Homo sapiens: one gene and its partners. The protein of the gene in region 2 interacts with the protein of the main gene of each other region in a pairwise test. Each region holds a gene or a part of one and is shown on either strand. Other genes may lie near its edges. The genes, in order: CHST15, NLRP12, WAC, SH3BP2, UBXN2B, MYO1F and SECTM1.

Region 1 (3,500 bases), on a different chromosome or scaffold from region 2:
TTTACTGTAGCAATCATTTCACTGTCTCTATTTCCATCGAAACATCACAGTATGCTGTACACCTTAAATTATACAATAAAAAATAAATTTTAAAGAGTAAATATGTATGTTTACTTATAAAATATTCTTGTGAATATTTAAAACAAATTATTATTAATCAACCTCACTTTGAATGCCCAAAGGCATGAGGTTGACAGGGGCTAGGCTTTTTAAACAGCAATTAGTTATAGGCGATGTGTCAGAGCTGAGTCTATTTCAGGAGAAGCTGCCTCCGTCTTATATGGTCCCAGTGGCCAGGGATTACAAAAGCCCCAAGCAGCAAATCGATGACTAACCAGTTAACTGCACTTATAATTCCCCCATCCAAACTTATCAGATCAGTACATCAGGAAAAGAAGTCAATATCCCTGCTTAATTTCTTAAAAACAAAGAAATGGCAACTTCTCAAGAAAGCCATCAGCTGTCCTTAAGTCTCCAAAGAATTAGAAAGTCAACATTTCCACTTTATAGTAATGTTCAAGTGATGTGAACATTTTATGTAGTGGTAAGAGTGACAGCCAGGTGGAGAAGTGGAGGCTCAAAAGAAGTTTGCTGCCACCATGTAAATGTTCTGGAGGTGAAGCAGAGCTGGGCTAGGCCTGGAGCCAGAGCCAGGACCCCAGGGAGGGTGCTAGCCCTGCCAGAGTGACACAGACGCCTTACCGATAATGATTGTATTCATCTTGCTCTGCTCCTTTGCAGAGCTGGCCTGCAGTCCTTGATGGATCTGGTGTGCGGCCAGGTCAAAGAGGTCCAGATAATCTTCCACGGGATAGCGGTCTCGCAGCCCATCTCTTAGGCGGACGATTCCTATGAGAACCAAGAAGCAGGAGATACTGAGGACAAAGTTGCTACTGCTGGAGCGATGGCCTCCCAGACAGCAACCAAAGAGAGATGGAAAGGCCTAAAGGGCCTGGCGACAGCAGCAAGAGGCTCAGCCCAGGTAAGCTTCAGAAAGGGCTGCTGGGGATGGGGGTGGGGGTCTATGCGGCCTGGCTACCCACTTCAATCCATGCATGCTTCAAGGGCTGGAAGATACCACCACTAAGCTAGACAGTGGCAGATTAAAGGCTGGAACACCTACTCAAGAGCTAGAAACATGTCTGCTTGGAGGGACAAAGTCTGGGGCTGGTTAACTTGTGCACAGGTGGGACTCGTAAGTGGCTGGGCAGCGATGACACCCAGGATGCATGTGTTGTGTCAAACAGGGAGAGAGGACCGAGGGCTGCCCACAGGAGAGAGAAGGGCAGTATCCTATAAACTCCATGATGCCTTCCTCATGGGGCCCAGCCAGCACCTGCCTGATGTTCTCTCTCCTCCCCCTGTTCAATCAAATACCCTGCCCTTTGTCCAAACAGTAAGGGGAACTGATCATACTCTAGACAGACATGGATTCTGGCATCGGCCACATACAGCTTAAATTCACCCCCTGCCTGAAAAATAAATAAATTTCACTTGCAAACATTTAAAAATCCACTTCCCAACACCACAACTCCTGAAGTCAATGGAAATTGGAAAGAGAACATCCGTGGCCAAAGTAACAAGAGGTTCAAGGTGACATTGAAGACTAGATTCCAGAGGCCCGCCTCTGTTCTTCCTCCTTTCCTGCCGGTAGAAAGCTGGTTTTCATTAAGGGGAAATCACTGTGAGCCTCGGGGGAGCACCCTACAGCAAGGGAGTGTGTTCAGACACGTCCAGCAAATGCATAGGGATGTGAAACCCTGGCTCCTACAGTGGCGGCTGCTAAACCACAAAAGAAACATTTACACTTTAGCTCACTGTAGGACGAACATCAAAAGGATGAAAGCAAACGTTTGTCAGGAAACACATTAAGAGTTGGTCTAGGGAAAACTTTGAAGATTCCCTTCTAGTCAACCTGAGTCCATTACTGGAAAACACCCTCGTGGCCTGCCAGGACTCTGGTTGACAATAGGCACGTATCACCCCTCAGCTCCAGTGACCAAACCTCTCCTGGCACAAGGAAAAGGTTACAGAGAGGAAACAGTGATCTGAGGACCGCAGGGTGCATGGGGTTAAGCTGGAGCAGAGAGGGATGGGCAGTGGTCATGGTAAGCCTGCGGCAAAGGGCTGAGAGCAAGGCCTCCAGAATGATCTCCATGTGGTTATCATATGGAACCCATAAGGCAGATGGGGCAGGTCAGAGAAGCTGAGGCCTGAAGCAACTCAGTCTCCCCCAGGTGCAGTGACTGCAGCTGGAACAGCACATAGCTGAGAACAGCACAGAGCAGAGGAACAGCACAGAGCAGGGGAACAGCACAGAGCAGGGGAACAGCACAGAGCAGGGGAACAGCACAGAGCAGGGAGCAGCACAGAGCAGGGAGCAGCACAGAGCAGAGGAACAGCACAGAGCAGGGAGCAGCACAGAGCAGGGAGCAGCACAGAGCCAAGGAACAGCACAGAGCAGGGGAACAACACAGAGCAGGGAGCGGCACAGAGCAGGGAACGGCACAGAGCAGAGGAACGGCACAGAGCAGAGGACCGGCACAGAGCAGGAAACGGCACAGAGCTTGGGAGCGGCACAGAGCTTGGGAGCGGCACAGAGCTGGGAGCGGCACAGAGCAGGGAATAGCACAGAGCTGGGAGCCAAGAGCCCGGATCACGCCCTTCTTGCTGGCCCTTACTGGCCACTGGCACTTACTGCTGACTGCTCGGGTCATGTGCCCGGGCTTTCGGAACAAGAAGAGCTGCCAGTTCTGACTCGTCCCCGTGTCCTGCACACAGCTGGCAATCAATGCTCACTGCATGGCTGGGAACCGAGTTCCAGACCCTGCTGGGTCTTTGCCTGGGAACAGCCTCCTAACAAGGGAATTGTGCCATCTCTTTCTGCCGCCCTCGCCCCCCAACCCCAGCGCTAACGTTGCGGGAGGAATGAACGAATGAAGGAACGAGACCAGACAGGAGCCCTGGGACCCAGCACTCACCAAAGCGCTTCCGGGTCCACCAGTGTGGCTCCTTGATGGCGGAGAACTTGACCTCAGGGTGCAGCCGCAGGCGGTCATAGAGGTCTGTGGTCCCGCACTTGGGCTGCCCTATGATGTAGAAGTGCGGCAGGCAGCGCAGGCGGAAGTGCTTCCCGTGCGCGTGCGCCAGGTGGCCCCAGAAGGCCTTGCGCAGGGCGTCGAAGGTGGAGCGGAAGCGCTTGGAGTAGAGCACGTAGGAGTTGGTGAGGTAGGGGTCGGTGGTGTTCTGCCCCGAGAACTCCTCGTACCAACAGGGGCTCTTACTGTTTGGAAGGAATTTGTTGGGGATGACTGAAAACATCTGCAAGGAAACAGAGGAGGAGAGACACAGAGGAGGGGAAAATGAGCAAAGACACAATCTAACCGCAATGGGAACCTGCCCTGAGACTGACGACCGTGTTCAAATTTGAACTAATATTTGACAATGATTAACAAATAAAGCAAAACTTGGTAGACGGTCAATGACTGTGCTTTCCTCTC
Region 2 (3,500 bases):
GCTCCTGGAGAGGCGCGCTGGGCTCAGGCCAGCAGCTGAAGATGAGGTCTTGCATGCTGCATTCCGTGGCACTCTGGTTCATCTCCCTGCAGTTGATGTAGAAGAGATAATCAAATCTGCCTTGGAAGAGCTTCCCGTCCGCCCAGTCCAGCATCACCTTGTGTGCCAGCATGGACTTGCCTATCCCTGCCGCGCCTTGCATGACCACGGTGCGCGGTGGCTCGGGGCGCTCCTCGTCTGGCTCAAAGAGGGTCTCTATCTTGATGGGGCTAGCCTGGTGTCCCACGGTCCTCGCGTGTCCCCGGCCTGTGTCCAGAAGCTGCTGCTGGACCTGCATGGGGTTTGAGTGCTCCTTCACCAGCAGGAGCCGGGTGTACCGGTGGCTGAGGTTGACACATTCCCCTAGGCGCGCATTGCGGTCTTCCATGAGCCGGAATTTCCTGCGGACATAGTCCCTGTAGGTTTCCTGGGGATCTAGGGGAGAGGAATGAAGGTTTTGTGGAAGACTCATCAGCAGCCTCTAATGAGTTCACGAGGTAAAGCGCTCCTCATGTGGCTCAAAGAAGGTGTGTGCCTGTAGTTCCAGCTACTCAGGAGGCTGAGATGGGAGAATCACTTGAACCCCTGAGGTGGAGGTTGCAGTGAGCTGAGATCGCACCACTGCACTCTAGCCTGGGCAACAGAGCCAGACTCCATCTCAAAAAAAAATTTTTTTTAATTAAAATAATTTATTTGTTTTGAGACTAGGTTATAAGACTGGCTAATTTTTTTTTTTTTTAGATGGAGTCTCGCTCTGTTGCCCAGCTTGGAGTGCAATGGTGTGCTCCCTGCAACATCCACCTCCTGGGTTCAAGTGATTCTCCAGTCTCAGCCTCCCGAGTAGCTGGGATTACAGGCACATGCCACCAGGCCTGGCTAATTTTTGTATTTTTAGTAGAGACGGGGTTTCACTATGTTGGCCAGGATGGTCTCGATCTCTTGACCTCATGATCTGCCCACCTCGGCCTTCCAAAGTGCTAGGATTAGAGGCATGAGCCACTGTGTCCAGCCCCACAAAGTGACTTTCAGCAAAGGATTTATAGAACGGGTACATTACCAGATAGTGCAGACATGAATCTGCCTTTTTTCAAAGGGGGCACAAGCCAGGTGCGGTGGCTCACGCCTGTAATCCCAGCACTTTGGGAGGTCCAGGTGGGAGGATCGCCTGAACTCAGGAGTTTGAGACCAGCCGGAGCAACATAGTGAGACCCTGTCTCTATAAAAACAAAAGAAAGAGAAAACAAAGGGGGCACAGAAAACTTGGGAGCAGTGCTTCTCAAACTTTTTTTTTTTTTCAGTACAGACAGGGTCTTGCTGTGTTATCCAGGCTGGTCTACAACTACTAGCCTCAAACAATCCTCCTGCCTGAGCCCCGCAAAATGCTGAGATTACAGGCATGAACCACCATGCCTGGCTGTGCTTCTCCAACTTTAAGACGCATACATATCATGCAGCAATCTTGTTAGAAATGCAGTCCCTGGGCTAAGTGCAGTGGCTCACACCTGTAAGAGATCGCCCCACTGCACTCCAGCCTGGGCGACAGCGTGAGACTCTGCCTCAAAAAAAAAAAAAAAAAATCTAGAACAATGTTCTTAATTGGGGTGACTGTGTCCCCTAGTTCCCCAGGGGACATTTGGCAACGGGACAAGTGGGTTGGTTGTTACAACTGGGAAAGTACTACTGCCACATAGTGGATAGAGGCCAGAGGTGCTGCTCAACATCCCAGGAACCACAGGACGACCCCATAGCAAAGAACGCTCTGGCCCCGAAATGCCAACAGTGCCAATGTGGAGAAACCCTGGTCTGGATACAAATGCATCCCTTGGTATTGGATGCCAGCAGAGGCCCATGATAGCTGCCTGAGAGAAGCTTAAAAAAAAGAATCTGAGTTTGATACTAAAATTTTCAAAACAAATATGTGTACTTTTAATTATAGTGACATACACATAAAATTTACCATTTTAACCACTTTAAAGCGTACAACTCTGTGACACTAAGTTCACGATGTTGTGCAATCATCAATATCTCTTTTTTTTTTTTTTTTTGAGACAGAGTGTTGCTCTGTCCCCCAGGCTGGAGTGCAGTGGCATGATCTAGGCTCACTGCAAACTCCGCCTCCCAGGCTCAAGTGATTCTCCTGCCTCAGTCTCCTGAGTAACTCGATTTACAGGTGCTCGCCACCACACCCAGCTGATTTTTGTATTTTTAGTAGAGACGGAGTTTCACCATGTTGGCCAGGCTGGTTTCGAACTCCTGACCTCAAGTGATCTGCCCGCCTCGGCCTCTCAAAGTGCTGGAATTACAGACGTGAGCCACTGTGCCTGGCCGCCAATGTCTATTTCCAGAATGCTTTCAGCATTCTAAACAGAAACTCCATATCCATTAAATATTAACTCATAATTTCTCCTCTCCCTGGCAACTGCTATTCTTTTTTTTTTTTCTTTTCTTTTTTTTTTTTTTTTTTTTTGAGACAGAGTCTTGCTCTGTCACCTGGGCTGGAGTGCGGCGGCACGATTCGGCTTACTGCAAGCTCCGCCTCCCAGGCTCACACCATTCTCCTGCCTCAGCCTCCCAAGTAGCTCAGACTACAGGTGCCTGCCACCACGCCTGGCTAATTTTTTTGTATTTTTAGTAGAGACAAGGTTTCACCGTGTTAGCCAGGATGGTCTCGATCTCCTGACCTCATGATCTGCCCGCCTGAGCCTCCTAAAGTGCTGGGATTACAGGCGTGAGCCACCATGCCGGGCGTGGCAACTGCTGTTCTACTTTCCGCCTCTGAATTTGACTACTCTAGGTGCCTTAGATAAGTGGAATCATACAATATTTGTACCCCTCTCCCGCCTTTTTTTTTGAGACAGGGTCTTTCTCACTCCCCCCAGGCTGGAGTGCAGTGGCGTGACCTTGGCTCACTGCAACTTCAACCTCCTGGGCTCAACTAATCCTCCCACCTCAGCCTCCTGAGTAGCTGGATCTACAGGCACAAGTTTCCATGCCCAGCTAATGTTCGATTTTTTGTTTTTTTTTGTAGAGATGGGGTCTTGCTTGTTGCCCAGGCTGGTCTCAGAGCCTGGCCTCCCAAAGTGCAGGGATTACAGGCGTGAGCCACCTTGCTCAGCTGGTGAACCCACTCTTATTCTACTTTAGTAGAGCTGGAGACTAGATTCATTTCATGCTCCCCTTGAAAAAAATAGCCAGAAACATTTGTGGCATTGTTAACAGTGTTGCTGTCTACCCAGCAGACTGTACCCCGGTTTCTTCCCTGCCAGCAAACCTGATTCTGTTTGGTTGGTGGATGCTGATTCATGACTCGAGTGAGTGGTGAATCCTGCCCCTTCACAAGCCTCAGAGGATGAATTATGGTTTTGCTAAATCAGTCATGAGTAACCTCGTTCCCCTCTGTCAGTGGTTGCTCTGAGAATGGGCAGATTCCCCAGTACTGACCAGTGGGTTACGTGGATGTG
Region 3 (3,500 bases), on a different chromosome or scaffold from region 2:
TGCATCTGGCCTCCTCAAACTATCTAAAAGCCCCACTTTGCCTAAATGAAACATTTACCTACCACACAAGAGAACTGCGTGGTTAGAGAATAAAATAAAAATACAAAAAAATTAAGGACAGTAAGAACAGACTAATGACCAACTAGCCTGAGATAGCTTTATTTTTAGGATAAGAACTTAACCACTTAACACTACTTTTAAGTATATTATGTGAAAATGTACATAAAAATTGATCACTTTATTTTTATTTATTTTGAGATGGGGTCTTGCTCTGTCAGCCAGGTTGGAGTGTACAGGCACCATCTCAGCTCACTGCAACCTCCGTCTCCTGGGTTCAAGCGATTCTCGTACCTCAGCCTCCCGAGTAGCTGGGATTCACAGGCATGTGCCATCACGCCTGGTTAACTTTTGTATTTTTATTAGAGATAGCGTTTCACCATCTTGGTCAGGCTGGTTTCAAACTCCTGACCTCAGGTGATCCACCCGCCTCGGCCTAAAAATTTATCATTTTCAACAGAAAATTTTGCAGTGCTTTTAGGAATTAACGTGTGAATCTGAATAGTTTCCAAATTAACACATCTACTTTTATTCATACTTTTTCAAAGTGGCTGACTAAATATTCTGAAACGTAAGTAGCATTACTGAAAAGCAAGGCTGGAATTAAATAATGCAATTCACCAGGAAAAAAATGGCAACATTTTATCTAGTACCTATCTCCTCCCTTCTCAGAATTTTTTGAAAGTATTTTAAGTAGCTACCTGAATTCCTACTTTTCTAGTAATTAGCATATTTTAAATATTCTGAGTAATTATTTATACAGGTTTTTTAGAAACATACCAGAAGTTTTAATACCGATTTCAACAAACGCTCGATTGTTTTAATGTAAAATTTCACCATACACATTATGTATATAGAATGGCTTACCTCCAGTAACTACCAGACACATAACAAGTATTGAAAAATATACACAAGATCCAAGCACCACTAACTCAATTATACTACCAATGGTCTTAAACTACAGTGGATATAAATTTCCAAACTCCAAAAACAAAAAACAAAACAAAAAAAAGTGTTCAACTATAAATTTCAAAAGAAAACAAAGACCATTCCTAAACTGGGGATTTTACTACTTACATAACTTTGCACAATGCAAATAAATTTTTAAAAAACTGTTATGAAGATTTACCTTCATTTATTTTAGATATGTCCACATTAGAATTATTAAGCTGCAGCGTGGCTTGCAAAGCAGGAAGCAATTGTCTAAGAAGATTTGGGTCCTGAAGTAAGGGAGGTATTGGCGACTGTGGAACAGGAGAAACAGGGACCGCTGAAGCAGATGTTGGAGGTGCAGATGTGGGGTTCAGTCCAGAGGCAGAAGACGTGGAAGGAGTTGTGCAAGAATGTGATACGGGTTTGTCTCCTGATGTAGATTCTAAATAAAAAGATAATCAGCCTGAAAAATTACCTGAATAGAGAAAATTGGAACAAACATCAAAGGAACACCTCTCATGTGCCAGGCACCTAACGTAAGTAATCTCATTTAACCCTTACACACTGGAGCACACAGAAGATGCTCAGTAAACATTCACATGACTAGAATAATGATTTAGACATTTCTCACCCTATTTCATAGGTAAGAAAGCTGAACAAGAAAGGTTAGATAACCTGAAGCCATAAAACCTGGTAAATCATACCCATATCTGATTTGAAAAGTACCAATCTGTCTACCACCAATGCTATCTCAAAGATAATTATTTATTAACCACACATTCAAATAAGCTTCCATTAGGATAAAAGGACAATATAATTCTACAGGATTTAATTTATATCTCATGAAATAAGGTGAAAAATGTTTATGGCCACAGTAACAACCTACCTCAATAAGACACTGGTCTTAATACAAATCAGGGTAGGTACACCAAGGTGGTTACACCCAAAATGGGCTAAAGATGTGATGAGAAGAGACTTTTATACTTAATAACTGAGTTTTGTAACTACATACTTCCCTTTTGTAATTCAATATATAAGGCAATGAGCTATTTGTTTCATTTTAAGATTATTAAAAAGGACACTTTAATATTAAAAACAACCCACCTCATAGTATTTAGAAATAAAGGATGTATAAAATACGCATGGAAAATTATTTGAAAGCTGTTGTTTCAATTATTTATATAGATTTAATGTAACTGTAATCAAAGCCCCAAGAGCACTGTTAATACTATTTGACAAGCTAGTAACATAAATCCTGAAGATTCCATAACCTGAAGAAAAAGAACACTGCCAGCAGGACATGCCCTGCCAAATATAAAAACTTACATTTAAAACAAAGCCAGTTAAAGGTAGACTGAACTTTTGTGTAGGTATTTAAGTCTTTAAAACTCTTAGAGGAAAACACAGAAAGGTATCCATAACACCAAGCAGATGTGTAAAGTTACAAAAAGCAGAACAATTATATTCAAAGTAGTGGTAATCAGACTATTTAAAGAATTTCTATACGTCAAAATAGACAAACTGCCCAATAGAAAAATGTACAGAAGACATTATTTCAAAGAAGGAACTTGAATGCCTAGGAAATTCAAGAAAAGATGCTCAACTTCATTCAGAATCAGGACAATGTAAAATAAAGCAACATAACCCTTTACACTCACCATAATGCAAAAATTTTAAAGTCAGACATACCAAATGTTGGCAAAGAGTAATGAGAACATTTACTCAACATTTCTGATGGATAATAAATTGATATAACCACACTGGAAAGTAATTTGGCATTATTTAGAAAAGTTGAAGATACGAACACTACATGACCCAGTAATTCCCCTTTAGGTACACACCCTCAGTGAAACTCAGATATATGTAAATCAGGAGAAAATTCAAAGACTATCACAACAGCACTCTGTTTGCTTTTAGTATAAAACTAGAAACAACCTATTTCTTTAAGATTTTCAAGATCATATATACAGTACTAGCAAGCTTATTGAAAACAGACTCCCCTATGAGTCTTTTTACACTACTATAATGGTCGAAAGAACTAGGGATAATAGCTCTCTAAAGTGTGGATCTCACAGCTGATTTAAGTACATTTCAAAAATGTGTTGATTAACCATGATGAACTCAGAAGGACTAAGATATTTTTATTTGCGTAAGGGTATACACTTTTAAAGGAAGGTGCTTGAATCCAGCAGACTGCCTATTATTTTCAGCTTTACTGTTCTGGATTCATAGACAAGCATAAAGAAACTCAAATAAAACGATAAATGTTTTCCTTGCGAAAATTCTGCTGTCAGATGGACGTGGTGGCTCACGCCTATAATCCCAGCATTTTGCAAGGCTTGAGCCCAGGATTTCCAAGACCGGCCTGGGCAACACGGCAAAACCCCGTCTCTACTAAAAATACAAAAAATTAGCCAGCTGTGGTGGCTTGCGCCTGTGGTCCCAGCTACTCAGGAAGCTGAGGTGGGAGAACCACCTGAGCCACGAAGTCGTGGCTGCATTAAGCCGTG
Region 4 (3,500 bases), on a different chromosome or scaffold from region 2:
CCACGCCAGCATGGGAGGCCAGCCTGTGGGTGAGGCTGAGCCCTGGAACCGCTATCCCCACAGTCATGGAAAAACGTGACTTCCGAACATCTGCATCTCTGCAGCCCTTGGTGAACTAGAACCACGAGTGTGACAAGGGCTGCTCAGAGGCACTTCCACACAGGCAGCAGGCATCTCAGAGGTGTTCGCAGAGCCCTGGGAGAAGGGCACCGTGGGCAAGGGCATTCGGGGGTGCGCGTGCCGGCCAGCACACCCATGCGAAACCTGCCCCTCCAGTTCCTGGACCCTTTGCCTGCCAGGCAAGGCAGGAAGCCCACCTGGGGTCCCAGATGCCTTTGACCACAGCCATTGGCGTAACTCTGTGGGAGTGGGGGACAAACTGGTCTCCTGGCACTTCCCAGAAATAAAGCAGAAAGCATTTCAGCAGGACGCGGTGGCTCACGCCCGTAATCTCTACACTTTGAGAGGCCGAGGCAGGCGGATCACTTGAGACCAGGAGTTCAAGACCAACCTGGCCAACATAGTGAAACCCCTGTCTCTACTAAAAATACAAAAATTAGCCGGGCGTGTTGGCAGGTGCCTGTAGTCCCAGCTACTTGGGAGGCTGAGGCAGGAGAATCACCTGAACCCCGGAGGTGGAGGTTGCAGTGAGCTGAGATCGCACCACTGCACTCCAGCTTGGTTGCCAGCGTGAGACCCTGTCTCAAAAAGAAAAAAAAACAAAGCATTTCCAGCAAGCTTCAGGGCTGAGTCATGGACATGCTCCACGTTCCACCAAGGCGGACTGGAGGCAACCGGGAACCTTCCTACCCTTGCACCTGGTACCCCGTCGTGGGCTAAGAGTGCCAGGGGAGCGAGGTGGGCAGAGTGCCCGTCAGAGGCCAGGCCAGGGTCCCTGTAGCTGGAGGCAGGGCTTGCAGCCGCCACACAAACTCACTGGAGGTGCGGGAGCTGCGGCTTCTCTGGCCTGGGCAGGACTGCGGGCCGCGCCATGGCCTCAGGCACTGGCAGCTTCAGCGCAGGAGGCCGGGGAGCCACGGGGGGCACAAAGAGTCCGGGCATGGCTGCCTCCCTTGGGGGGTCCTCTTCAGCTATCTTCAGGAACTTGGGCTTGTTGGCTGGCACAGGTGGGGGCTCAGATGTGGGTGGTCCTCGGGGGGACAGGTGGAAGGACTTGAGTTTGTCACAGTTTCTGGAGGTGGCAGTGGCCATGATGGCAGCACTGGAAGTGGAGCAGGCCCCGTGGCCAGGGGTCCAGGGCTCCGGGCTGGGGCTGGCACTCTCCCGGAAGCAAGGGGGTTTCCGGAGGCCGGGTGCGGTGGGCATGGTGCTCAGAGGGGGATCGCTCATCCTTCGGGGGGTAGCAGGTACCCTGGGGCAAGGCTCAGCCCGCCTCGGGCACAGTGGGTCCCTCTTGGAGTCCTCAGCAGCCAGGCCAACATCTGGGAGGCCGTGCTTAGGGGGCGGGGGTGGCAGTAGGGGACCGGGGCCCTTGGAGGTAAAGGAGTGGGCCCGGGGCATGTCAGAGAAGGCTGGCTTCCTGGGCGTGGGCACTGGGGGTGGTGGGTAAGCCGGTGGGTGCATCAGGGCATCTGCAGAGCAAAGAGACCCGGGTTGGACCCTGACAGAGACTGGGCCAACACTATCCTCTGCTGGCAGTGGTCAGCCAGGCCAACCAGGAGTGCAACCCATGGTAGGCCCACCCCACAGCCTGCCCACCCAGCAGCCCAGCACCCAGCACTCCCATCCTGCCTTCCCCAGGGTCCCAGACCACCCACCACCCCCAGCCTTCCCCATTCATCCTCCCTATGGCAGCCTGTGGACGCTTCCTGAAGCCTAGAGGACACCTGAGGAGCCCATCAGGTTCCCAGAGGTGGAAGGAAGAGAAAGGAAGAGAAGTCAAGAAGGATCTCAGGGCTCGGCTGGAGCGAGAGGGAGGACGGAATTCCCAAGGACAGGGGAGGGGAGCAGCTGGGAGGAAGGTGAAGGCCCGTGTTTGCTCAGAACATATCCAGAAAGCTGGGAGATGCCAGGGGATGCGGGGTCAGGGAATGTGTGCAGAGTTCAAAAATCCAGGCTGGACATGACTCGGAGCGGGCAGCCTGCAGATGACCCAGGCTGTCACCCAGGGAATTCGGGAGAGGAGTGAGGTCTGAGTCCCGGGTATCCCTCATGGGGCCAGCACAGGAGCTGAGGAGAAAGAGGACCCCGGGAGCACGGGGCGCCTGGAGGACGGGCTGGCAAGGAACAGGGCAGGCGCCAGGCTGGTGTGGCTCAGGACTGAGCGCTGGAACTGGGAATGGGGAGGCCACAGGCGTCCTGGACGAGAAATGTCTCGGGGAGAGGATGAAGGGGGTACAGAGGGAGGGTGAGTGGAGCAGTAGCATGCAGGAGCACTGGTGGCTCCCCAGGCCCATCTCTAGCCTCACTGGGCTGCAGCTCAGGGCTGGGCAGACGGAGTCTGAGTTCACCAAGGCTTGGCCAGCCAGGCTAAGACGGAAGGCAGTAGTGTGTGGGCGAAGGGACAGGCATGGTGAACACTGTGAGACAAGAGCTCTGCATGGAAGGAAACTGAGGCAAGCGGCCCGCAGACCCTCGTGGGCTGAAGGACTGTTGGCACTGGGACCCCAGAGGGAAGGAGGGAGGGAGCGGCAGGAGAAGAGGGGCTGGACCCGGGAGCCTGAAGGTGGGAGTGGATGGGAGGCAGAGAGGATACGGGGTCAGGGGCTGGGGTCGGCAGAGGCCAAGTCAGTGAGAACAGGAGGCTGGAAAACAAGGAGGCAGGGCGGACGCAGGGAAAATGGAAGGATCAAGGATCAGCCCCAGACATGAGGAAATTGACAAGATGAGGGGGCTGGAGAGACAATAGGGAGGGAGGAAGGGAGGGAGGCGACAGAGGAGGACAGAGACACGTCCTCCCCACCCAGCTCGTGCTTCCGTCATCCACGTGTGACCACCTGTATCAGCCTGTCTCTTTGACTAGGCCATGTGCTGCAGGAGGTAGGTGGACACTGGGATGGGATGGGGTGGGGTGGGACAACGACCTGGCCTGCAGCAGTGTCCACACAAGCTGGCAGCCATGGGGACATGGACCTGCCCTGAGCCTGCGCGCTCCTCAGCGTCCTTCCTTCCCCATGCTTAACCCCCAGGGCCACCCCGGCTCCACCTGCCACTTATCGCCATGTGCCTGTCCCTCCTCCTGGGAGGTGGGAGGAGGAAATGAGCAGAGGTGGCAGCAGCTACACCTCTTCTGCTCCAATCCTCATAATACTTGGGACACAGCAGGGAAGCGGAAGCCACCCAGAGCGGTACCTGGGCCAGCATCCCCAGCCTCGGAGGGGCTCTGCTCCCGGTCCCAGCCCCTGCTTCCTACACACCCAGAGCTCCCCGGGCCCACCCGCCCCACCTACCCTCAAGCCTTCCGGGCTCCGGGGAGTCAGGCTCCAGGTAGGAGTCATCCTCATCGTCGTGCTCATAGTCTGCATGGGGAGAGGGGGGTG
Region 5 (3,977 bases), on a different chromosome or scaffold from region 2:
TGGCAACACAGTTATCAGAACAGCTATCAGACATTTTAATTCTTCTCATTTATAGTACCCACTATTGAGTCCATCCTAACAAATCCAATCCTAACCCTAACAATACTGAAGTTATCCCTGTTCCCACTCCCTCCCCGTCCAACCTATGTAGAAACAGATAATATGTGGAGGAAAACTGGGACAGAGTATACAACTAAATACCTTAATGAACATGTGTGTGGCGGGCTGAGGGACACCAGAAGAGAAAGCAATTCAGAAATACTATTGAACACTGGTGAGGTTTTGGGCTTAGTTTTGCCACTAACAATCCCACCCCTAACTTTCCCCATGACCATCTCCTTATTTGAGGGGGATGAAGGGAGCTATGAAAATCTACTCTGATATGCAAAAAAACATTTCCGAGTCTGCAGTTTGTAACCTGGGGGCTCCCAGGGCTGGGAGGCCTTTTGGGAAGCAACTATGCAGCTTTTCTCTGGTGGTACCTGGAACACTCCCTCCTGATTCAGATGCTGACAAACCCTACACTGCATGGCAGCTAAGATACACTTACTCAGGGGTAATTCTGCTTGTTCCAATTGGTAATATGTTGCCCCTTTACTCACTCTGAAAGACTCTTAGAGCAAGCTGTTAGGGAAGTAAGAAATATCTACTGAAAGCTGCACGAACTGCGTAACTCTTAAGAAAAGCATGTCTAGATTAAACGGTAACAAGATAATCTATAAATAATCAATATCCAAGGTACCATTTGGGAAGAACATTATTTAATTCTTTTAAACTTTTGATACATACTTTATTTCTTGATATGCCATCCCTTTGGCTGTTTTCAAGTTTCTTTGCAAGTTCTTCACATTCATATTAAGTTCTAAAGGAAAGATTATCAATACTTAGATACTGTACTTGATACACCAAATCACATTCATAAAGAAATCAGTTATCTTCCTACTGCCCTAACCTACAACAAGTAGACAGGAGATGAAAAAAAAAATCCCCATCATAACTTAGGGTGGAAATGAAGGCATTCTCACAATTAGCAACATCTACCAGAGTATCTCCAAACATTAATCGTACTTTGATCCACTGGATTAAGACTGCAAACAATTTGCCAAGAATCAGGTGGTCATTAAGCAAGCTGTTCTCACTTTTCACATAAAAAGAAGAAATGGATTTAAATTAGGGAAAGGACATTAAGTTACACACTCTATTAACTTTAATGATATTAGAATTGACTAGCCAGGGAAAGTTATAGCATCTTTCTCCTGAGGAAAAAGGAATCAAATATTTGCCCAGCAACAACTGAGCCAGGATAATGTAGGAATTTTGCATAGGCCCTTTATAACATTATTTAATCCTTACACCACCACCAGCACCCTGACCTTCCTCAGTTTACAAATGAAGACACAGGATCAGACAGGTTAAGACATTTCTCCTAAGTTCACAAAACTACTAAGTAGCAGGACTAAGAGGCAAACCAAAATTGGTGGGACTACTAACTCCATGCTGCCTCTTAGTGATGTGGGTTTATAATAGGAAAGATGAGGTACACAATAGCTTCCTATCCCTTGATACTGTTTACTACTACTGAACCAACTATGGGAGCTGGAACTATTCTACATTAAGTTCACCTCCTAATGTTACACTGATCTCTCCAGCCTCCAAATTCTTCGCTTTATGCACTGCTTATTTTGGCACCCAATCATACTCCATCTTAAAATGTTATGCTAAGTATTCATACCCTATTTCTCCGAAGAAATCTGTAGGCTTCCAAAAGGTAGAACTGTCTTTTACACTTACATACCTACCCATCAATAGAGTTCAGCACCGACTAAGGATTTGATGTCCTTATTTCCACATTCGCAAAGCTCAGCAGTATGTTACAATGGATGGTGGTTTGTTCACATTAGAATGAAGTGTGGTTGTAAAGTAATACAGTAAAACTGTTCTACCAAGATTCTCCTTAGTATCTCCTTACTGATATTTACTTGTCAAATTTTTATCAATAATCTTATAATGAGACACAAAAACGCCTAAAATGAGAAAAGTGGCGTTAGTATCTGATAAAACGGGATTTGGTGCGCTACTATTTAGCTAACTAATACTAGTGTCCTACACAACATTACGAAATTTTATTTCCCAGTTTCTTCAGTGCAATGTTTTAAAGACCACAGCTTAGACAACTAGGCTGTATGGGCATAGAGTGCATCGCTTTCCTTCACCCCTTTAAAAGAAAAACCTACCTGATAAAATGGAACCATTTTTATATTTAAGTAAGCAAGTCAGAAATAGCATCCAAGACAAAAAAGAACAAATCACGTATCATTACTGTTCAGGTGACTGTCTACTTCCCTGCGGCCACAGTAACCTTTCTTCTGGAGTAAGTCTCAAGAAGGAAGCATCAACCCGTGAACCGACCAACTGACCCCGCAAAATGTCATTCTAAACGAATAGCTATTTTTACATCATACGTGGGGTGGAAGGGAGACAAAGCACCAGCGCTGGAGGCTTGGGCACTTGTGTTCACGACCACCACAGTGTCAAGACCCGACATCGGGAGACCGGGCGCCGGATTCTATCCCCAGACGGGGTCGGGGAAAGGCTCCGCCGAGGCCAGAGGTGGCCTCCAACTCGCACCAGCCCGCGCCGTCACCAGCCCGCGTCCACCGCCGCGCTCCCTCCCCCGGCTCCTCGCCTCACCTGCAAATCCCGCGCGCTCGGAGGCCGCGGCCCGGAAGACCTCCTCTCCTGCTCGCCGGGCTCAGGGCCTCCGCCCTCCGCCATCTTCCGCTGGCTAGCGGCGCCCGCTGCGGACGCACCTGCCGCAACTTCCGGGGCCGGTTGCCTGGCAACCGCAGGAGGGGCGAAGACGCGCAAGGTGCGTGCGCGTCCCCGCTACCCGAACCCGCGCCCCCGCTTCCGGTGCTGGCCCACCTTTTTGGTTTCTCCTTTTTTCTTAAAGGGAGTTTCTCCGCAGGGAAACCTCTGTTAAGTTTTGTGTTGCTCCTGCTACTCGCCTAAAGGCACTGTAGGCCGCCCTAGAGGGCAGCATAGACTTGCAGATTCATTTAGCTCAACAATGAAAACATCCTCTGGATTTTTCATCTGATGAAAAATTGCAACCTCTCCATCTAGTCTTGGTCAGATTCTCTGATCTTTCCTATCAAGGATTGGATGGTACATCGTCACCACAGCGTGAATTAGCACTGAGAGTGAAAAACACCGTAAAAAGTGCTTGGAATAATTTGCTAAAAGCAGAACTCTGCCGGGCCTGTGGCTCACGCCTGTAGTCCCAGCACTTTGGGAGGCCGAGGCGGACGAGGTGATCGAGACCATCCTGGCCAACATGGTGAAACCCCTTCTCTACTAAAAAAAAAAATATATATATATATATATATATATATATATATACACACACATATATATATACACATATATACACACACATATATATATACACATATATATACATATATATACACATATATATATATATATATACACAAAAATTAGCTGGGCGTGGCGGAGCGTGCCTGTAGTCCGAGCTACTGGGGAGACTGAGGCAGGAGAATCGCTTGAATCAGGGAGTCGGAGGTTGCAGTGAGCCGAGATCGCGCCACTGCACTCCAGCCTGGCGACACAGGGAGGATCCGTCTCAAAAAAGAAAAAAAGCAGATCTCGAGACTATCAAGCCCTCGTCATTCAACTGAAATTGATTTAGACTCTGGTCTTCTTATCCTAGGCACTTTTTGTTTTTGAGACGGAGCCTCGCTCTGTCGCCCAAGCTGGAGTGCAGTGGCGCGACCTCGGCTCACTGCAGCCTCCACCTCCCGGGTTCAAGCAATTCTCCTGCCTCAGCCTCCCGAGTAGCTTGGACTACAGGTGCGTGCCGCCATGCCCGGCTAACTTTTGTATTTTTAGTAAAGACGGGGTTTCACCATGTTGGCCAGGATGGTCTTGATCTCCTGACCTCATGATCTGCCCAC
Region 6 (3,500 bases), about 45 Mb from region 2:
TTGACCTCCAGGGTTCAAGTGATCCTCTCATCTCAGCCTTCCGAGTAGCTGGGACCGTAGGAGCACACCACCATGCCTGGCTAATTTTTATGTTTTTTGTAGAGATGAGGTCTCACTATGTTGTCCAGGCTGGCTTTGAACCCCCAGGCTCAAGCGATCCTCTTAACTTAGCCTCCTAGATAGCTGGGACTATAGGTGTGAGTGATTGTGTCTGGCTCGGTCTGTCTCTCTCTTTTTTTCTTTTCTTTTTTGAGACAGGGTCTCATTCTGCTGTTGCCCAGGCTGGAGTGCAATGGCACAATCTCGACTCACTACAAGCTCTGCCTCCTGGGTTCAAGCAATTCTCCTGCCTCAGACTCCTGAGTAGCTGGGATTACAGGTGCCCAGCACCACACCTGGCTAAGTTTTATATTTTTAGTAGAGATGGGGTTTCACCATGTTGGCCAGGCTGGTCTCAAACTCCTGACCTCAGGTGATCCACCCACCTCAGCCTCCCAAAGTGCTGGGATTACAGGCGTGAGCCACTGCACCCAGCCTCTCTCTCTCTCTTTGTTAAAAAAATCCCTGTCTCAGGACTGGGCATATTAACTCATGCCTGTAGTCCCAGCACTTTGGCAGGCCAAGGCAGGAGGATTGCTTGAGGCCAGGAGTTCAAGACCAATCTGGGCAACAAAGTGAAACACCAACTCTACAAAAAAGTTTTAAAATATTAGCCAGGCATGATGGTGTGTGCCTGCGGTCCCAGCTACTTGAGAGGCTGAAGTGGGAGGATTGCTTGAGCCCAGGAGGTGTAGACTGCAGTGACCTGTGATCACACCACTGCACTCCAGCCTGGACAACAGAGCGAGTTCCTGTCTCAAAAAAAAAAAAAAAAAAAAAAAAGCGGGGAATGGTGGCTCCCATCTGTAATCCCAGCACTTTGGGAGGCTGAGGTGGGTGGATCACGAGGTCAGGAGTTTGAGACCAGTCTGGCCAATATGATGAAACCCTGTCTCTACTAAAAATACAAAAATTAGCTGGGCATGGTGGTGGGTGCCTGTAGTCCCAGCTGCTCGGGAGGCTGAGGCAGGAGAATCACTTGAACTCTGGAGGCGGAGGTTGCAGTGAGCCGAGATCATGCCACTGCACTCCAGCCTGGGTGACAGAACGAGACTTTGTCTCAAAAAAAAAAAAAAAAATCCCTGACTTACTTCCTCAGTCTCCTCTTGGAGCTTCCTGGGATTGCCTCCCAGAAAAACCATTTGTCTCTGAATCCTTGCCTCAGGCTCTGCTTCTGGGGGAGGGGCAAAATGAAGACAGCAGGGACTATTGCCTTATTGTTCATGGCTGTGTCTCCAAGCACCCTAAACAGTACCTGGCACACAACAGGTGCTCAATAAATAATTGCTGAATGAATGAACTAAGAGGCACGGTCCTTCCCAAAGCTTTAGAGGCAGAAGGAAGTATCACTATGGAGCCTGGGTAGGTTGGCACAGAGAGGTGGGAACGCGGTGGGGAGGGCTGGGGTGTCCCCTAGTTGCTAAGGGATCCTCATGGTCCTTCCACCCCACCCCCACCCCAGGATCCCCCATCCCTGACTGCTTGGCCGCCCACCTGCTCGGCCTTCAGGGTAAGTTCGATAAAGATTTGCTGCAGCTTCTCATTGACGAAGTTGATGCAAAACTGCTCGAAGCCATTTTTCTGCAGAAGGAGGAAAAGGGTCCTTCCCTCAATGTCCTGGTGCTGGAAGTTCTTGTGGCCACCCTGGGCTGCCCCAGGGAGGACAGGATGTGGGCTGGAGGCAGGGGGCCGTACCTGGAAGATCTCGAAGCCGTAAATGTCCAGCACACCGATGCTGTACTCTTCCTGGGGTTTCTGCATAGCACGGTTGATGGCCTGCGGTGTGGGTGGGGACAGGAAGTCAGTGGGCATCGGTCAGATCTGAAGCCCCTGCCCACCACTCCTTAGACACACGCCTAGCCAACTTCATGGGTGATGTCCCCTCATGCCAGTTTCCCTCCAGCCCTCTTTAGCTCTGCCCTTCCTGGCTCTGTGTACAGTCTCCCCACCCCATAATCAGTCACTCAGAGGAGAAACCCAAGTGTCAGTGTATCAGGGTCCCTGACTCCAGAGCTGACTCTGCCCCTGAACCTCTCTGCACCTCTATTTTCTTTTTTTTTTTTTCTTTTTTTTTTTTGAGACGGAGTCTCACTCTGTCGCCCAGGCTGGAGTGCAGTGGCATGATCTCGGCTCACTGCAAGCTCCGCCTCCAGGGTTCACACCATTCTCCTGCCTCAGCCTCCCAAGTAGCTGGAACTACAAGGGCCTGCCACCACGCCCGGCTAATTTTTTGTATTTTTAGTAGAGACGGGGTTTCACTGTGGTCTCGATCTCCTGACCTCGTGATCCGCCCGCCTCGGCCTCCCAAAGTGCCGGGATTACAGGTGTGAGCCACTGCGCCCGGCCTTGCACCTCTATTTTCTTATCTTTAAAAGGGGTTGATAATAGCAACTACCTTATGGGGCTTTTTCTTTTCTATTTTTTTTGAGATGGAGTCTCATTCTGTTGCCCAGGCTGGAATGCCAGTGGCGCAATCTCGGCTCACTGAAACCTCTGCCTCCAGGATTCAAGAGATTCTTCTGCCTCAGCCTCCCAAGTAGCTGGGATTACAGGCATGCGCCACCACGCCCGGCTAATTCTTGTATTTTTAGTAGAGACGGGGTTTTGCCATGCTGGCCAGGGCTGATCTTGAACTCCTGACCTTGGGTGATCTGCCCGCTTTGACCTCCCAAAGTGCTGGGATTACAGGCATGAGCCACTGCACCTGGCCATACATTTTATACTTTATTTATTTTTATTTTTTATTTTGAGACAGGGTCTCAGTCTGTTGTCCAGGCTGGAGTGTAGTGGCTTGATCATGGCTCACTACAGCCTCAACCTCCTGGGGTCAGGGATTCTTCCACCTCAGCCTCCTGAGTAGCCGGGATTACAGGCACCAGCCACCATGCCCGGCTAATTTTTGTATTTTTGTAGAGACAGGGTTTTGCCATGTTGCCCAGGCTGACTCCATACATTAAAAAAGTTTTTATTTTATTTATTTATTTATTTTGAGACAGAGTCTCTCTCTGTTGCCCAGGCTGGAATACAATAGCACGATCTCAGCTCACTGCAACCTCCACCTCCCAGGTTCAAGTGATTCTCCTCCCTCAGCCTCCCAAGTAGCTGGGATTAAAGGCATGTGCCACCACTCCCGGGTAATTTTTAGTAGAGAGGGGGTTTCACCATGTTGGCCAGGCTGGTCTCAAACTCCAGACCTCAAGTGATCCATCCACCTCAGCCTCCCAAAGTGCTGGGATTACAGGCATGAGCCACTGCATCTGGCCAAAAGTTTTTTTTAGAGACAGGGTCTTGCTCTGTCACCCAGGCTGGAGTACAATAGCGCAATCATAGCTCACTGCAGCCCCAACCTCCTGGGTTCAAATGATCCCCCAACCTCAGCCCTCTGAGTAGCCAGAACTACA
Region 7 (3,500 bases), on a different chromosome or scaffold from region 2:
GACCAGGGGCCCAAGTCCCACCAGCCATGCAGACCTGCCCCCTGGCATTCCCTGGCCACGTTTCCCAGGCCCTTGGGACCCTCCTGTTTTTGGCTGCCTCCTTGAGTGCTCAGAATGAAGGTAGGTCTCGGGGCCCCGCCTCTCTGCTGGGGAAAGGGGGGCCCGGTGGGGGCATGACAGGGGCAGGAGGGGTGGACTGAGGTTGGGTCCAGGTGCCACCAGACCCCCGATAATGACTGACTCTGCAGACCCAGGGCCTGACCATGTGGAGCTGGGCTGCCTCAGGTGGCGGTGAGTGGACCGTGTCCCGCCGTGGGTGGAGGGTGGTGGTGAGTGGGCCGTGTCCCGCCGTGGGTGGAGGGCGGTGGTGCCCGCTGTGGTACCTGGTGGTCACTGTCAGAGCAATTGTGGGGAAGGACCAAGATCACGACCAGTTTCCAAGGGAGAGGGTCTGGGTCAGTTGCGACCTGTGCCATGGCCGGGAACAGACAGCAGCCCTGGCCTGGGGGCTCCTTAGTCAGGCGCACCTCAGGCCTGCCAGGAGTGGATCTGCATTTGAACAGGGTCCCCCAGTGAGATCCTCCCCAGCTCTCTAGATCCCCAACCTGTCAGCAAAGTGACCTGAGGGGCTTTTCTTTTCTTATCTTTTTTTTTTGAGACGGGTTCTACCTCTATCGCCCAGGCTGGACGCCCAGGCTGGAGTGCAGTGGTACAATCACAGCTCACCGCAGCCTCGACCTCCTGGGCTCAGGTGATCCTCCCACCTCAGCCTCCCGAGTAGCTGGGACTACAGGCATGCACACCATACCTGGCTAAATTGTGTATTTTTTGTAGAGATGGGGTTTTGCCATGTTGCTCAGGCTGGTCTCAAACTCCTGGGCTCAAGTGATCCTCCCACCTCGGCCTCCCAAAGTGCTGGGATTACAGGCGTGAGCCACTGAGCCACCCGAGGGGCTTTTAAAAGATGTCAGAGCTCAGCCACATCCCAAACCACATCCCAAAGCAGTTCAGTCAGAATCCTAAGAACGAACAAAAAACAAAACAAAACTGAAAGGGAAGAATCCCAGGTGGAAGAACCCTGGTTTCGGGAGATTCTGCCCCCACCCCCCAACAGTGGTTCCAAAGTGTAACTGGGCTGGGGCACCCCCTGGACAGCCGCCCGCTGCCCTCGGGACGGTGTGAATTTGTGCAGTGGCCTTAGAGGCCCTGCAGTCCCTGAACACTCAGAGCGTCCAGGCAGGCAGCCAGCCTGCTCGTCAGAGGAAACTCAGTCCAGCCCGAAGGCCAGGTGCCCCTGAAGCCCACCTCCTCCCATGGGCACCAAGGCCCCTGGCACTTGCCAGCACATGGCACCCACCATGTGGTTTTGTATTTGGTGAAATGTGGCCAAATGGCGGCTCCAACCAGCATGCTGTGTGCTCCCCGAGAGCTCACCCTGCCGTCCGTCTGTCCGTCCATCCGTCCGTGTCCAGTCACTGGTGGACGCTGACGCAGCAGGGACAGTAGCAGCACCAAGACCTCAGGCTGGTACCATGCTCGGGCCCGACGGCCTGAATCTCAGGCATCCTTGAGCTGGCTGCTGGGGCAAAGGCCCCAGACCCTCTGAGGGAAGCAGCTGCACGGGTCGCTATGGGGCAGGGTTCACCCAGGAGGCGGGAGAGAGAGACTGACACGCCGGCTTGTGTCAAGGACTTGACCTCCCAGGACTGTGGAGCTGTGTATGGAGCTGGCCCAGCAACCTGGAGCTGAGCGGGTGGCCGGGAGGGGAAAGGGAATGTTGGGGGTGGCACAAGCAGGCTGGGCCCCACAAGGACAGGCTGGAACCCATGTCTGCTCTGCTTGCCTCTGAGGCTGGCCTGTGGGTGTCTGCAGAAGCCCTGCCCTTCCTCACGCAGCCGAGCACCTGCACCTGGCCTAGGCCTTGGAGAAACAGGAGGGAGCTGGGGGCGGTGGGGCCTGGCCACTGCTTCCCACGAGGAGGGTGATTCGGCAGGTCAGTGGCAGCACTCCTGCCACAGCGCAGCCGCCCGGCACACACCTGAGGCTCTGACTTCACCCACCCCAGTGGAAATATACAGGGGAGGGAGTTGATAGGAAATGCCTTCGTCCAAGCTGACACACCCCAAGGAACAGACGTGGGTGTGAGCACGCACACACACACACATACACACACACAGAGCCACCCGTCTTTTTTGTTGCTATTTTATTCTTCCCACACGAGATATATGTGCTGATTGGGTCGGGTGGATGTATACATAGTTCACTGTGTCCCTTAGAGGCCCTGTCTCCTGCCCTGGCCCTGGCCCTGGGCACAGCAGCCAGCCAATGCCCTGAGGTCCAGCCCTGATCCGTGTGTGCCTCTGTCTGGCCCTACAGGCTGGGACAGCCCCATCTGCACAGAGGGGGTAGTCTCTGTGTCTTGGGGCGAGAACACCGTCATGTCCTGCAACATCTCCAACGCCTTCTCCCATGTCAACATCAAGCTGCGTGCCCACGGGCAGGAGAGCGCCATCTTCAATGAGGTGGCTCCAGGCTACTTCTCCCGGGACGGCTGGCAGCTCCAGGTTCAGGGAGGCGTGGCACAGCTGGTGATCAAAGGCGCCCGGGACTCCCATGCTGGGCTGTACATGTGGCACCTCGTGGGACACCAGAGAAATAACAGACAAGTCACGCTGGAGGTTTCAGGTGAGGGGAGGCTCGGGGAAGCAAGGGGGAGGGGAGTGAGAGGGGACACGGGGAGGGGAGGGGGCCTGGGCAGGGGGAGGGCTGAGACTGAGAGGGAAGGAGGAGGAAGAAGAGCAGGCATGAGCCGGGCTGCCAGGAGACAGGGTTGGCGGGTAGAGAGTTGGGGTGGAGGCCTCTTGACCTCCTGGGACAGTTCTTCCTTTGGGAGGGGCAGGGGTCAGGCAGGAGGCTCAGGGGGCACAGACCCCACAGTGGGGTGGGACCCACAGAGGGCAGCCGGAGTCCCACAAACAACACAGAACACAAAGCTGCTCCTCAAAGGAGCCCAGTCTGCCTGTCAGGGGTGGGGGCTGCACCCTGCAGCCAGGAAGCCCAGGCACCCCCCGCCTCCCTGCCACCCCCACCCCGGCTGTGTGGGGAAACTGCACCCCAAATACCTGTGCTCTGAGAGGCCCTCCAGACCCGCAGCACCTGGCTTCGAGGCACCTGCCCTCCCTTTACTGGGGTCACCCAGAGGTGCTCAAGGTCGCCCGCGCAGCACCCTTAGTGACCACGAACAGGGGCCTCCCAGGCTGCCACGGTCCTGCCCCGCCCCTCCCACTCCCACTCCCATGTTGTCCACCTCGACAAGCACCTAGACCACACCTGCCCTCGCCACTCCTGTCTTCAGGGCTGGGACCACCCCCGACCCTTCTCTGTCCCCACCCCTCTCCTCCTGCCCTCAGGGGATGCTCGCTGCCCCACTCTCTGCCTCAGCTCCCCCGACACAGGCATGATCACCACCCACTCATGTCCCCACTAGCCCAGCCCACTGC

The links.
Region 1: the proteins of NLRP12 (region 2) and CHST15 interact in a two-hybrid assay, tested with the Homo sapiens proteins (one large-scale study listed by IntAct).
Region 3: the proteins of NLRP12 (region 2) and WAC interact in a two-hybrid assay, tested with the Homo sapiens proteins (one large-scale study listed by IntAct).
Region 4: the proteins of NLRP12 (region 2) and SH3BP2 interact in a two-hybrid assay, tested with the Homo sapiens proteins (one large-scale study listed by IntAct).
Region 5: the proteins of NLRP12 (region 2) and UBXN2B interact in a two-hybrid assay, tested with the Homo sapiens proteins (one large-scale study listed by IntAct).
Region 6: the proteins of NLRP12 (region 2) and MYO1F interact in a two-hybrid assay, tested with the Homo sapiens proteins (one large-scale study listed by IntAct).
Region 7: the proteins of NLRP12 (region 2) and SECTM1 interact in a two-hybrid assay, tested with the Homo sapiens proteins (one large-scale study listed by IntAct).

Annotation. Positions count from the first base shown.
Region 1 is NC_000010.11:124,041,599-124,045,098, forward strand, and holds part of CHST15 (carbohydrate sulfotransferase 15), read right to left. Parts: intron 3,322-3,500; coding exon 2,982-3,321; intron 850-2,981; coding exon 703-849; intron 1-702. UniProt on the Homo sapiens protein: Sulfotransferase that transfers sulfate from 3'-phosphoadenosine 5'-phosphosulfate (PAPS) to the C-6 hydroxyl group of the GalNAc 4-sulfate residue of chondroitin sulfate A and forms chondroitin sulfate E containing GlcA-GalNAc(4,6-SO(4)) repeating units.
Region 2 is NC_000019.10:53,810,815-53,814,314, forward strand, and holds part of NLRP12 (NACHT, LRR and PYD domains-containing protein 12), read right to left. Parts: intron 475-3,500; coding exon 1-474. UniProt on the Homo sapiens protein: Plays an essential role as an potent mitigator of inflammation. Primarily expressed in dendritic cells and macrophages, inhibits both canonical and non-canonical NF-kappa-B and ERK activation pathways.
Region 3 is NC_000010.11:28,606,118-28,609,617, reverse strand, and holds part of WAC (WW domain-containing adapter protein with coiled-coil), read right to left. Parts: intron 1,433-3,500; coding exon 1,187-1,432; exon of another isoform or gene 1,176-1,186; intron 1-1,175.
Region 4 is NC_000004.12:2,827,585-2,831,084, reverse strand, and holds part of SH3BP2 (SH3 domain-binding protein 2), read right to left. Parts: intron 3,480-3,500; coding exon 3,411-3,479; intron 1,593-3,410; coding exon 938-1,592; intron 1-937. UniProt on the Homo sapiens protein: Binds differentially to the SH3 domains of certain proteins of signal transduction pathways. Binds to phosphatidylinositols; linking the hemopoietic tyrosine kinase fes to the cytoplasmic membrane in a phosphorylation dependent mechanism.
Region 5 is NC_000008.11:58,410,184-58,414,160, reverse strand, and holds the start of UBXN2B (UBX domain-containing protein 2B), read right to left. Parts: upstream 2,801-3,977; 5' UTR 2,776-2,800; coding exon 2,692-2,775; intron 1-2,691. UniProt on the Homo sapiens protein: Adapter protein required for Golgi and endoplasmic reticulum biogenesis. Involved in Golgi and endoplasmic reticulum maintenance during interphase and in their reassembly at the end of mitosis.
Region 6 is NC_000019.10:8,546,443-8,549,942, forward strand, and holds part of MYO1F (unconventional myosin-If), read right to left. Parts: intron 1,876-3,500; coding exon 1,795-1,875; intron 1,681-1,794; coding exon 1,594-1,680; intron 884-1,593; exon of another isoform or gene 1-883. UniProt on the Homo sapiens protein: Myosins are actin-based motor molecules with ATPase activity. Unconventional myosins serve in intracellular movements. Their highly divergent tails are presumed to bind to membranous compartments, which would be moved relative to actin filaments.
Region 7 is NC_000017.11:82,323,767-82,327,266, reverse strand, and holds part of SECTM1 (secreted and transmembrane protein 1 precursor), read left to right. Parts: 5' UTR 1-26; coding exon 27-120; intron 121-2,376; coding exon 2,377-2,685; intron 2,686-3,500. UniProt on the Homo sapiens protein: May be involved in thymocyte signaling.